Regions from separate parts of the Homo sapiens genome. Here all the other regions are reported to be linked to region 1. Evidence: microRNA targets listed by miRTarBase, many of them from high-throughput screens and not tested one by one. Region 1 holds a microRNA gene; each other region holds the end of a gene's coding sequence.

Region 1 (3,185 bases):
CTTAGACAAACGTGTACAAAATCAGGCAGGGCTACAGCAACCATTTTTGTCATTTTCTCATTAAAAAGGAAGACCCAGTAGTAATTTCAATACATTCCTCTAGCTGCATTTCTTTGCAGTTGTTGGCACTTGGTACAGGACTTCTCATATGATTTAAAATTACTAAGTGATTCTTTTTCCTCTCCCTAATGAGTTGGTAGAGGTCAATTCTTTGCAAAATGAGTAAATTGAGAGAAGCAGCCTCAGCTGTGCTGTTCAAGTGACCAGGCTGCCTTCCTACTGAGGGTAAATGGGCTTTCCTGAAACAATCCCTGCTTTCTGCTAGTGCTTGTGCTCCTGGCTCAGGAGGGTGTACTCCGAAGAAGCAGCCTGGCTTCAGAAGGAAAAGAAAGCAGCCTTTAATTTCAGCCCTAGAGTGATCACGCCCTTTTCAAACACCCTCAGGCTCCCGTGGGGCTAATGTTCAGGGGAGGCCAGAATTCGACAAGCTCAATAGCACTGTGAGCCCACACCTGAATTTAGAACTTGGCCTGGGCTTTGGTGTCAGGACCCTGGCAAATCAAATCAGGCCTGAGGACAAGGCTGGAGAGTATCAAATACCTAATGAAGCAAACCGAGGTGCTTCTAAAAGGCTGAGCTGGGTACACATGAAAACAACAAAGCTTCCGTACCTTACTGGAAAAGACACTGCTTCATATCTGCCAATGAAATAGAAAAGTTGTCAGCCTAGCGGCTCGTATCCGCAAAGCGACCTTTTTTTTCTCTCTCCCTTCCTACTTTTTTCCTTTCTTCCTTCTTTTCTCCTTTTCCTTCCATTCCATATGGCTATTTTTTTTTTTTTTTTTTTTTGGGAGAGGATTGCCTGGCAGTGTCCCAATTCTAAGTGACAAGGAGAACCCTGACCCTGTAAGTTCTTTAACAAAATGGAGATAATTTTTATTTTTGATTTGAAGATACTATGAAATAGGGAGCACCGCAAAAACAAAGTTGCTTAACATTCTTGAATCTAAACTGACATGACGGGACGTTTATTAACGGCCGATCTCAGAGGTGGATTTTTGCCTTTGTAGTGGCATTCATGCTTCTTGCTATTAAATGGTCACAGAACTATCTTAGAAGATTTATGTAGACTCCCAAAGCAAACTGACTGTCTCCTAACTGTAGTGGAAATTTAGTATGTCCAATCATCAACTTTCTGTAAGAAAAAAGGGAAATGTCTGGATCTGTGGACAGTGGGTTCTGAACTGCATGAGAACCCTGGTGAAACGTTTTGCTGTCCCAGCTGCAGGCCAAACACTGCTCTCTCACTGTAGCTGATAACTCACTACCCCGAGAGGCACAGTGACTCATCAACTTTCAGTTTGGACCAACATCTATGGATAGAGAACAAAAAGGAAATACATAACTTATATCTCACTAAGTATTCATGAACCAAAAATAAATTCTATTTCTATGTTATATTTACACAATTAGAAAAATCTAAAATGAGATGGTAAAGTCATATAAACTTTGTTTAAGCCCCACTGAAAATAAAATGAATTGATCCCTATGATTGTCATTCTTAATTTCCATGGATATTTAGAGCCAAACTTGGCTAATAAATAAACTGCTTATACACAAAATTTAGATTCAAATACAGCATTACTGTTTGATCCAATGAAAAAGACGTTTACAATCAGATCATTCCTGAATAGCCTTTCATTTTTAAGAACATGGCTAAAAGTAAATGAACCCCAGTACTGAGGCAGAGCTGGAGCTAAAACAAAGTGTTCATACACACATGTATTTTGCATAAATAAATGAAATAACAAGACATAAAAATGACTCAAATCCGGCAACTGTGAGGCAAGCCCACACGAGTCGAAACAGATGACTTTTGTTCATGTAGTTTTCGTACAACAGTTTCACATTAGTCAGAAGTGATAAAAAATACCATTTATATCCAGTGCTTATAACACTTACGAAACAACATCTGTGAGTGTGTGTGTTTTTTGTTTTTTTTTACTTACTATGAGCAAAATCAAGTTTCAGTCCTAAAGAACAGTCCTTTGTTCTCCACCAGCCCAGAATATTATTTTGGCATGGTCATAAAAACAAACAAAATTAACCTACTATGCTAAATGTTTGCTTTTGTGCAAAATTAATTACATACAATACAATGCTAGCCATACAACACTCTACCAATGCAACAAAATAAGAAAGAAGTGAGAGAGAGCAAAAGCAAAAGCCAAAGAGAAAGAAAAAAAACAAGAGTGAACTGAGGAGGAGAGGTATATAATCAAAGAAATCAGTAAGACAATAATAAATACTCATTTTTTGAGAGAAAAAATGACCTCCTCCTCATTTGAAATAAATGTACAAAAACAAATTTCTAATCCCCAACCAACATGAATAACAAAGAGTTCCTATCAGTACCTTAATCAGCTTATAGAGAGCACTCCCAGCTAACAGAATAGCTTGTAATTTCTTGGCTAGACCTGTTTATTGCTATTAGGCCTTGAGCACTCTTAAATAAATACAAAGGTACACTATTTTCTTCCAAGTGACAAAATGGCTCAAGAAATCTGATGGGGCCATTCCTATGTCCTGGTGATCAGATTCTGGGTTGTCCCATGAGGTGAACTATCCCATTCACTGACATTCTCCCACTAAACCTCTCTGGGGGAAGCCCCCCGATAGACAACCTGTCCTAGTTTCAGGAAGGCCAAAATGACATGGCAGAGCTCCCTGTAGTTAGGAGATGGGGAATAAAACCTCACTGCTTCCCACCCCAGTAGCATGTCTTCAAAGAAATCCTTGTGTGATAAGTGCAGTTCATTTTGTTCACACGTAGGCAGGTCCCCATGTGGCTACAGATAGAGTCAGCCAGAGGAACTCATCTGCTGCCCCCGGAGCTATCTGTTCCCCAGAGTTAACAGTAGGAACATCCCATATAGGGAATGTATTCCCCTCCTTCTCCTCCCTTACAGTTTTCTTTCATTCTCTAGATGTATCATGACTATTTGCCACCATCTTTGCTCTGAGGCTGTCATGTGGCTTTTTGCATCCTGGGGATTTTGCAATGAACTCCCTAGATGTGCCAGCTGGGACAAGGCAACTCAGTGTAAAGGTGCCAGCCCATGACAGCTTCACTGAGATTCCTGCATGGCCCACGAGCCTTGGGCTTCAGGTTTGGCCGCAGGACT
Region 2 (3,185 bases), not on the chromosome of region 1:
CCTTTGAAAATGGGACATATAACAAATTTTCTTTAATTCCTTTTTCTTCTTTTGTCAGATAAGTGAGTTTGAATGTTTTTGTTAAACACTCCTGCCTCCTGTTAAAATGGTGAGAGGATAAACTCTGGGCCTTTCCTTTACATTATCTGTAATCTCTTCGATTTAGGATGTCTGAGCTTTGGAAGTGGGGAGGGCCAGGGAGTTGGGTTCTGGTGGATCTGGAAAACGACAGGATGAAGCAACACTTCACCAGAGCAAGGCTGAAGGTTTCTCTCTGGAAAGGATTTTTTTGTTTGTTTGTTTGTTTGTTTGAGATGGAGTTTCACTCTTGTTGCCCCGGCTGGAGTGCAATGGTGCGATCTTGGCTTACTGCAACCTCTGCCTCCTGGGTTCAAGTGATTCTCCTTCCTCAGCCTCCTGAGTAGCTAGGATTACAGGCATGTGCCACCACACCTGGCTAATTTTGTATTTTTAGTAGAGATGGGGTTTCTCCATGTTGGTCACACTGGTCTCAAACTCCTGACCTCAGGTGATCTGCTCGCCTTGGCCTCCCAAAGTGCTGGGATTACAGGCGTGAGCCACTGTGCCTGGCAGATTTTCTTAACATAGGTTATGAGGCATACAATGTTGGGCTGGGAAGAAAATGAGAGGTGAGGGATAACTTGGGAAGTTATAATAATTTTACAGTGAATAACCGTCTTTTTTTCTGGTAAAATATTTATTTCTTTCTTCAGCAAGATGTCTGTATCAGTTTGTCTGGGCTTCTGCTCTAAACTGGCCTCCCTCAGGACCCAGGCTAAAGGAGCAGCCTCCATGGGGCATGTTGCCAGTTATCACAGCCCAGGGAAGCAGGGCAGTGAATTGACCCAGGCTCTCAAAGCCTCCACCTGGAAGTGGCATATTTCACTTCAGCTCAGATGTCACTGGTCAAAGGATGGGCACACTCAACTGTAAGGAAACAGAGAAGTAAAGTCCTACCATGCATTTGACAGGATTATAGAATAGCTCCAATAGACCACATTTACATACATGTTTTGCCAGCCATAAACTCCTGGAAGGTAAAGACTGTGACTCGTTCCTCTTTGCCTCTCTCTTGGCAACAGCCTGCGGTAGAAGTGCAATACATGTTAGGTGACTGCCTGCCTGATTGTGGAACTTAGCAAGTGACTGGAACAAAATGGGAATCAAAGCCGGAAAACTATGTCTCCTGTTTCTCCTCCCCTTTTGGCACCTCTTTGCTTCTGCCAGGATTCTGACTCTGAAATTGATTGCCTCAATGATCCTGGACCATCATTTAGCTACTGTAATCCTCAGTTCCTGCAGTTGGAAAGGGGGAACATTATTACTCCCATGTAAAGATAGAGTAAGATGGCATCTCTGAAAGCCAGGGTTGATGAAGGCTTGTGCCTCTGGCTGTTGCCCAGTGCCCGCTCTGGGGACCTTGAGTGCCCATTGCCATATGCTGAGCTACCCTACTGGGGCCTGCTGTCCTCAAGTGAGGTCCTACATGAATAAAAATCTTTGTGAGAGTCTACCTTAAAGGTTCAGGCGTTGACTATATGTGTGTATGTAATTTATATTCAGGAATACAGGAGGTGGTCATGGGAGTCGGTGTGGGTCTCTGGGATATGACTACTTTTACATCATAATCCCAAGGAATTGTTGGTTAAATTGTGTTCAGAGATTACAAGAATACTGGGTTTTATTTTTTTGTTAAGTCAGATTTATTTAGGTATAATTGACATACAGTACAATTCACTCTTTTCAGTGTGCAGTTCTATGAGTTTGACAAATGCATGCAATCTTGTAGCCACCACCTCACAATCAAAATGGAGACCATTTCCAGCCCCCTTAAAAGTCCCCTTGGCCAGACTTGGTGGCTCAAGCCTGTAATCCCAGCACTTTGGGAGGCTGTGGGCGGATCACCTGAGGTCAGGAGTTCGAGACCAGCCTGGCCGACATGGCGAAACCCCGTCTCCACTAAAAATACAAAAAAAATTAGCCTGGCATCGTGGCACACGCCTGTAATCCCAGCTACTCAGGAGGCTGAGGCAGGAGAATCACTTGAACCTGGGAGATCGAGGTTGCAGTAAGCTGAGATCGTGCCATTGCACTCCAGCCTGGGCAACAAGAGCAAAACTCTGTCTCAAAATAAAATAAAATAAAATAAAATAAAATAAAATAAAAAACTCCCCTTGTGCCATTTGTGGACAGCCCCATTTCCCACCCATATCCCTGGCATCCATGGACCAATTTTTTTTTTTTTGCTTTTTATAGAATGTCAGTAAAGCTTTTCTGACCTTTGAACTCCGATCAGGTGATAATCTCTTTTAGCATCCTATAGCCCTTATTTCAATTCTAATTATACTGTGTATGCAATTATTTAAAAATTGTTCAATGTCTATCTCTTCTGCTAGACTTCTGCAAACATGTCTGAAGGAAGGAATTGCCTGGCCAATTCATTACTGTATCCTCAGCAGTTCCATCAAGTAGATGCTCAACAAATGTTTAGTGAATAAATGAGTGACTCAATGACTATAAGTAGAGTGCTCTAGGTCGCTACTGACTCAGCAAAAGCCATTTATTATTCAGTGGTATCAAATCTATCCTATTGTAAAGCACACAGAGACCTTATCATTCAAACATTCTTGAAGTGTATGGGTAAATATTTGGAGTTACATTGGATCTGAATACCAGCAATCAGAACCATCCTAGGCAATTTCAGATGCATGATAGATATATTCAATTAATCAAAAATAAGATGGAAACATTTTAATAACACTGTCTTTTGCCATTATTTTATACAGCATATTTAAAACTGTTCATTTCATAATTTTTACATTCCGTATATTTTGTAGCAGATCTGACATGACAGTGATGCTTAAGAGCAAGATCATGAAGTCTTCAAAATCTAGCTTATTTTCTGTGTGCTCATCAAGTTCAGAAAGGATCTCTCTGTATTTTGGCTTGGTTTCTTGTCCCTGTGAGAATGGAGAAATAAAAACCGAATTCGTTGTATAGACTTTAGGTTTACAGATCATAAACAATAATGTCTTAGTCTGTTTAGTGTTGCTGTAATAGAATACCTGAGACTGAGTGATTTATAAAGAAAAAAGAAAAATTTGGCTTACAATTCTGATGGCTGGAAAGTTCAAGATCAGGCATCTGCATGTGGTGAGGACCTC
Region 3 (3,185 bases), not on the chromosome of region 1:
TGGCATGAAATGTCATATATATAAAGGATATATGTTTAACCAAAAGGAAGAAAAACACCATACCTTTGTTATTTAGAAATCAACTCACAATTGCATAGTCAAACCTAATCATTGTTGTTTTGATATAAATTTTCTTGCTTTATTAGTGAGTTGGCTTTGAGGAAATGTGTATTTCCACAGGTAAAACAAGTATGTGTTAATTTCTTGAGCAAGTAGGATTCCAGTATCAGAATACATTCTTAAATGAATTATTCCTAAATAACGCATAGCACATTACTTAATCTTATAAGGAACTTATTATTAGGATCTTCATTAATAAATATTTATTTATAAATATTGCTGTGCTTGCTAAGGGCACTGACCTTTGGCCATTATATATATCTATATCTATGTATATATACAAGTGTATCTATATATACATTATAGCTATATAATGATATATCATGATATAAAATATGATATGAAATAATATAAAGTGAAATAATGTAAAATGTATAACCTATATCTATATACAAGTATATATATAATACTATATATATACAAGTGTTTATATACAAGTATATATAATGGTAAAAGGTCAGTGCCTTCAACAAAGCACAGCAATAATATATTTAAATAAATATGTATTTATTAACAAAGATCCTAATTATAAGTTCCTTGTAAGATTATGTGCTATGCCTTAGTTAGAAATAATTAATTTACACATACTTGTTTTACTTATGGAAATACAAACACATTTCCTTATATACTTGTATATGTACAAGTGTATATACATATATATATATGAAATATATATAATAATGGCAAAAGGTCAGTGCATTTATACATATTTATAATGTGTATGTTTTACCTTTGGTTTGTATGATTTATATTTATATATAAATGTACATAAATTTATAAAAATGGAAGACTAGCTGGAAACCAGAATCTGACTTCAAACAGTTCCTGGTAAAAATAAAATTTCCCAGTTAAGTTTGTAAATTAGTTTTTTGAAATTTAGAAAATAGTATCTCATTGGACCAATATTTATAAATTGTTTCATTCCCAGGTAAGTCCACAGAAATCTATTTAATTTAAATAAATTTTAGTACCATGCTTAAGAGATATTTTCCTTTTTATAAGTTTGTTTTGTTTTGGTTTGTTTCCTAAAGGAACTGGTTTTTAGCAAGGAGACCAAGAAACTCTACTCCCTAGGGGCTAGCAATGAGAGAAAGGAAGCCTTAAGTCTTTGAGCACAGGGTGACAGTTTGGGTCCTATGTGAGATGATCAAATCCACAGCAACAGAGGAAAGGACAAAAGGAAAAGGTCTGTAGCAGCACTACATCAGAAAAAAATGGATTCAGCAAGGAAGTGGGTGACTCTGAGTAAGCATCCATGTCAGGATGGTTTTGCTACAGCCCCCAACAAAACATTAATTAGTTTAAGAAACTCAACTTCGGTTTACAAGTGTTTTGGAAAAGTAACAAAGAACAACATAAGTAACAAAATAATTCCTCAGGTCATTACAATGGATGTTTCCTATAACTGAAAAATATGGTTAAAAAGTACAAACTACATTTGGTGTGCAAACTGTTTAGTTCTTAATTCCAAACTAAATTGTACATTATATAGTAAAATTTTGACCAGAAAAACTTGGAGATTTTAGTAAAAATTTCATTGACATATTTACAGCCCCAGTGTAGTTTGGCCGGTGTGCAAAGCCTGACTAAGGAGGTTATAGAAAAAAATATCAGACTTAAGCCCATCAAATCATTAAAGATGCTTTGGCAAGACTTCAAGCTTTACAGACATACTCCATGTGACCAGAGATGTCATAACCAGTGTTCTTTCTCTTGAAATGTTAGAATGCTTTAGTTTTATTCTATAATTTCCGTGTTCCATGGAACAGCATTCATTTCTCCCAGTTTTAGTAACATAATGAGAGATATATTGAGTGTATAGAGCAGGAAAGACATGAAAACTTATATTGCATAATATTAGCAAACATAAAAGATAGCATTATAAATTTTTAAAAATCCAAAAAAATTCCAGAAACAGAACAGTGAGCATGTTTAAAAAGTCAGGACTGACCGTTTCTGTGAGTTCTGAGGACTGTAAATGAGCCTCAATCCATAAAGCTGAGAGGTTGTCTTAGCCCACATATGCAGCAGGTGACTCCCTCTGACAAAAGCAAGATTTAGCTGGATCTTTTAAAAAAAAAATATACTTGTATTTGAGAATAACAATAATATAGTTATATTGTAACATACTTTTATGATGTACATTTATATTATATAATAATACATACTTGATAGATATTTTAGTCTATTACTAGTTTTAATCTTCAAATATGCCTGGAAAAACATTTAAGCGTATTTATAAATATTTAAATGTTATCAAGTATTGGAAAACATGTTTGATTACTATGGGAATATAAACTAAAACTCCCCAAATATATATAGAAGATGTACACATCTATAGCATATAAAAGAATTAGGGATTCCTTCCTCCCCTTCTTCCTTTATTCTGAGGAAAGAGGTAGTGAACTTGAGCTTTAGTTTTTAACAGGTTAGAAAAAGGAATCTTTTTACATATCTACTAAAAGTTCTATTATTCAATGTCTAAGTTTTTAAGTCCCTTGGTTTCCTAGATACTTCGATGGAATCAGCAGCCATTGATCCAATGCCAACTCCAAGACTGGAACGTCGCAATGATAGTTCCAAGGCGGAAATTTGACGTAATTCTTTTCGACACAGTTTTACAGGTGTGACACCATGAAGTCGTCCCACATTTCCCACAACCTGAATTTGGGATGACAGTCGACTGTGAGATTTTGTAAACTGATTATCATCTGTTTCTGTTTTATTCTCATTACCTAACATATGCCCACTGGGGGGTGCTAAAGAACTATGAATTGGAGGTAATTCTGGGATATCTTCCCAGAGCTTTTGAGGATTTGGCTGTGTTCTTAAGCTGCTTGCTGAACTGTCCATTTCTCTTTCTCTTCCACTTAATTTCATACTTTCAGGTCTGGATGCCCATTTTAATTCTTCTGAAAGCATGCCTCCTCCTTCTGGCTTCAGGACTCCATCTCCAGCCTCTTGATCTAAAAATAATCCCCAAACCAAAAAATTAGATACTATTTCCTCAAAATTAGGTATTTTAATCAAAACATCTTAACATAAATACATTATTATCACCCAAT
Region 4 (3,185 bases), not on the chromosome of region 1:
GATGGAGCCAGAAATGCCATCCTGACCCAGTGGGACAGAACATTGAAACCTTTAAAAACTCGAATTGTCCCTGATTCCTCCAAGCCTGCCTCCATGTCACATTATTTAAAAGCCTGGGGGGCACCTGTCCTACTTGCCTCTCTTCTACTTATCTGTAAATCTTCACTTTTCTTGAAATTGGTGAGAGATAAACTACAGGACAGAATGTCCCCTTACCTAGTAAGTCTTTGGCGAGGATGAACCTGATTGTTACAAGGGTTACACAAAGTCATGCTAATTCTATCTCCAAGTATCTTGTGCATCCCTCCTCTGCTCTCCATCATAACTGCTATTAGCCAAATTCAGGCCCAGTCATCTCCTATCTGAATTATTGTATTATCTTCTTCTTTGTTTTCAGTACCCTCTTTCTTGCCACCCTTTCCAATGCATCTTCTACCCTGCTACCTCAGTGATTATTCTAAAATAAATATATATGATATGGTTTAGCTGTGTCCCCACCCAAATCTCATCTTGAATTGTAGCTCCCATAATTCCCACATGCCGTGGGAGGTAGGTAATTGAATCATGGGGGCAGGTCTTCTCCCATACTGTTCTCATGGTAGTGAATAAGTCTCACTATATCTGATGGTTTTATAAATGACAGTTCCCCTGCACAAGCTCTCTCGTGTCTACCACCATGTAAGACGTGTCTTTGCTCCTTCTTCACCTTCCACCATGATTGTGAGGCCTCCCCAGCCATGTGGAACTGTGAGTCTGTTAAACCTCCCTTCCTTTATAAATTACCCAGTCTTGGGTATGTCTTTATTAGCAGCAATAGAACAGACTAATACAATATGGTTTATTACTCTAAAGTAAATATATGGTTTATAAATATATAGGAACCTCTGATTCCCAGGAAGGTCTCAGTAGGAACAAAATGGCATTCAAATTAAGTTGAGAAAATTTTTTCCATCACCCAAACTGGAACACAGTGATGCAAACATAGATCACTGCAGCCTCGAACTCCTGGGCTCAAGCTATCCTCCCACCTCAGCCTTCTGAGTAGCTGGGACCATGACTGGCTAATGTTTTTAAAGGTTTTCATAGGGACAGTGTGTTACTTTTTCTTTCTTTTTTTTTCTTTCTTTTAAAAAAAATACGGCCAGGGTCTCGCTATGTTGCCCAGGCTGGTTTCAAGCTCCTGAGCTCAAACAATCATTCTGCCTCAGCCTTCCAAAGTGCTGGGATTACAGGCATGAGTTATCATGTCCAGCCTCACTATTTTTTTTAGATCTCAGATCTTGAACTCTTGGGTTCAAACAAACCTCCCTCCTCCACCTCCCAAGTTGCTGGGATTACAGACATGTGCCACCATGCCTGCCTGGAAATTTTAATATAGAGATTATTTTAAAAGATATGGGCAGAGTGTAGGAAGATCATAGAGATAATGAAACACTCCCAGACTTGTAACCTTTACTATCCATAGACCTAATGAGGCAAGAGAATAAAGCAATTACTAAAGAGAAAAAGCAAGCACTGCGTAGAGGGCCACCTAACAAGAGCAATGACCTTCAGCTGAGTGACAAAGGCAGGTGCACGATGACTACAAAAGTAGAGATCTGGGGGAATAAATTATCTAATCTTACTCTCTTCCCACTCTCTGATCCCTTGCTAGTGCTCCCCAAGGGCCAAACCAAATGAAAGTCAGAAGGCAAGGTTGCCAACAGATTTTATCCACAGAGGTCAGGCTCCTAGGGCACAGAGCAGAGCAAAGATGATGGAGAGGATATATGGTGAGGCACACAAAAGGGATCCAGTTTGATCATGTCACCCTCCCATATAAAATCCTTCATTCTCTATCTTGATTAGAGATAATAGTCCTTGGCTGGGCACAGTGGCTTATGCCTGTAATCCCAACACTTTGGGAAGTTGAGGCGGGCAGATCACTTGAAGTCAGGAGTTCAAGACCAGCCTGGCCAACATGGTGAAACCTCATCTCTACTAAAAATACAAAAATCAGCTGGGCGTGGTGGTGCGTGACTGTAATCTCAGCTATTTAGGAGGCTGAGGCAGGAGAATCACTTGAACCCAGGAGACAGAGGTTGCAGTGAGGCAAGATCACACCACTGCACTCCAGCCTGGGTGACAGAAAGAGACTCTCTCAAAAAAAAAAAAAAAAGAAGACATAATAGTCCCATATTCCTTAGCATAACATAGAAGGCCCTTCATGGTCTGAGTCCCTTTGCCTGGGTCAGCAGGATGCCTGTTATTTCAAACCCTCCCATCCAGCACTACCAAACTATGAACTTTCATAACTCCTCCCTTTGGCATCAGCTCTTGCCTCTGCCAGGCACACAAATCTATACCGTGCCTGACTGATGAGATCCTATTTATCTTTCAAGAGAGCTCAGTGCTCTCATTCTGTGCAGCCTTCCCTAAATCCCCAAAGCAGAAATGGTCACCCCTGTGTAGCAGCTGCACCTTGTGTATGCTCTGGTGCTGCTCTTTTCTTACTATAGTATCATTTTCTTTTTGTCTGTCACCTAACAAATGGTGAGTTCCTAAAAGGAATCATATCATGTTCATCGGACACACTGCCTGATATGAAGCATTGCTAAAGAAGTATTTGATGAATCGACAGTGGCCTTGCCAGCTGGCACTCTTTGTTTTCTCTCTTCTACCTACATTCTTGTCTTCTGCCAACATGATAAATTACCTCAGCCTTGCAAACAAACAAGAACAGTCCGCCAACAGCTAATGTTATAAGTAAAGGACAATCCAAGTGGCAATTAGAAGAAATAGAACTATACAGTCCAGTACTTGCACAGGAGCGAAGTACACTGGTTAAGAGCACTAACTTGAGAATGAGAACTCAACTTGTTAGCTATGAAGTCTTGGCCATGTGACTTAGCCTCTCTAAGCCTTAGTGTCCTCATCCGGAAAACAGTGGTCATAATAGGGCCTACCTTACTGTGAACATTAATGAGAAAATGCACGGTGTTTGGTCCAAAGTAAGTTAACTACTAATAGCTGCAGAATCGGGGACATTTTCTATTCTCTGAATTAAAGAAAGGACTTGAAACTATTGCCAAATCCCATTCCCTGTTGTGTAATCTGGAGGCATGGCCTTTGCTCTCCCTGGATTCTCTGGCAGCACTTTCCAGTTAACGATCGTTTTTGTTGTTGCTGCTGCTACTGATAAACGG

The links. The annotated mature microRNA hsa-miR-6073 reads GGUAGUGAGUUAUCAGCUAC and lies in region 1 at 1,310-1,329, opposite strand. An mRNA with a match to its seed (bases 2 to 7 or 8) in the 3' UTR can be bound and repressed. Matches are read on the target gene's strand: a 7mer-m8 pairs with bases 2 to 8, a 7mer-A1 pairs with bases 2 to 7 and ends in A, and an 8mer does both.
Region 2: the mRNA of SNTN is a reported target of hsa-miR-6073. The part of its 3' UTR that is shown has no 7-base or 8-base seed match.
Region 3: the mRNA of KIF27 is a reported target of hsa-miR-6073. Seed matches in the 3' UTR shown: 7mer-m8 at 2,519-2,525.
Region 4: miRTarBase lists FMO4 as a target of hsa-miR-6073. The part of its 3' UTR that is shown has no 7-base or 8-base seed match.

The regions. Positions count from the first base shown.
Region 1 is chr11:15,968,246-15,971,430 of GRCh38, forward strand. MIR6073 (microRNA 6073) reads right to left here and starts at 1,376; the gene lies at 1,288-1,376. It overlaps SOX6 (SRY-box transcription factor 6), which reads right to left. Exons shown (of 16, transcript NM_001367873.1): 16 at 1-3,185.
Region 2 is chr3:63,663,733-63,666,917 of GRCh38, reverse strand. It overlaps SNTN (sentan, cilia apical structure protein), which reads right to left. Exons shown (of 4, transcript NM_001080537.2): 4 at 1,706-2,981. The coding sequence ends at 2,823. Among named protein-coding and RNA genes, the nearest start is that of SNTN, 13 kb to the right of the region's middle.
Region 3 is chr9:83,834,400-83,837,584 of GRCh38, forward strand. KIF27 (kinesin family member 27) reads right to left here. Exons shown (of 18, transcript NM_017576.4): 18 at 1-3,086. The coding sequence ends at 2,602. LOC101927552 (a long non-coding RNA gene) reads left to right here. Exons shown (of 6, transcript XR_001746793.2): 5 at 1,152-1,306; 6 at 2,631-3,184. Among named protein-coding and RNA genes, the nearest start is that of GKAP1, 18 kb to the left of the region's middle.
Region 4 is chr1:171,341,600-171,344,784 of GRCh38, forward strand. It overlaps FMO4 (flavin containing dimethylaniline monoxygenase 4), which reads left to right. Exons shown (of 10, transcript NM_002022.3): 10 at 1-485. The coding sequence ends at 240. Among named protein-coding and RNA genes, the nearest start is that of FMO4, 29 kb to the left of the region's middle.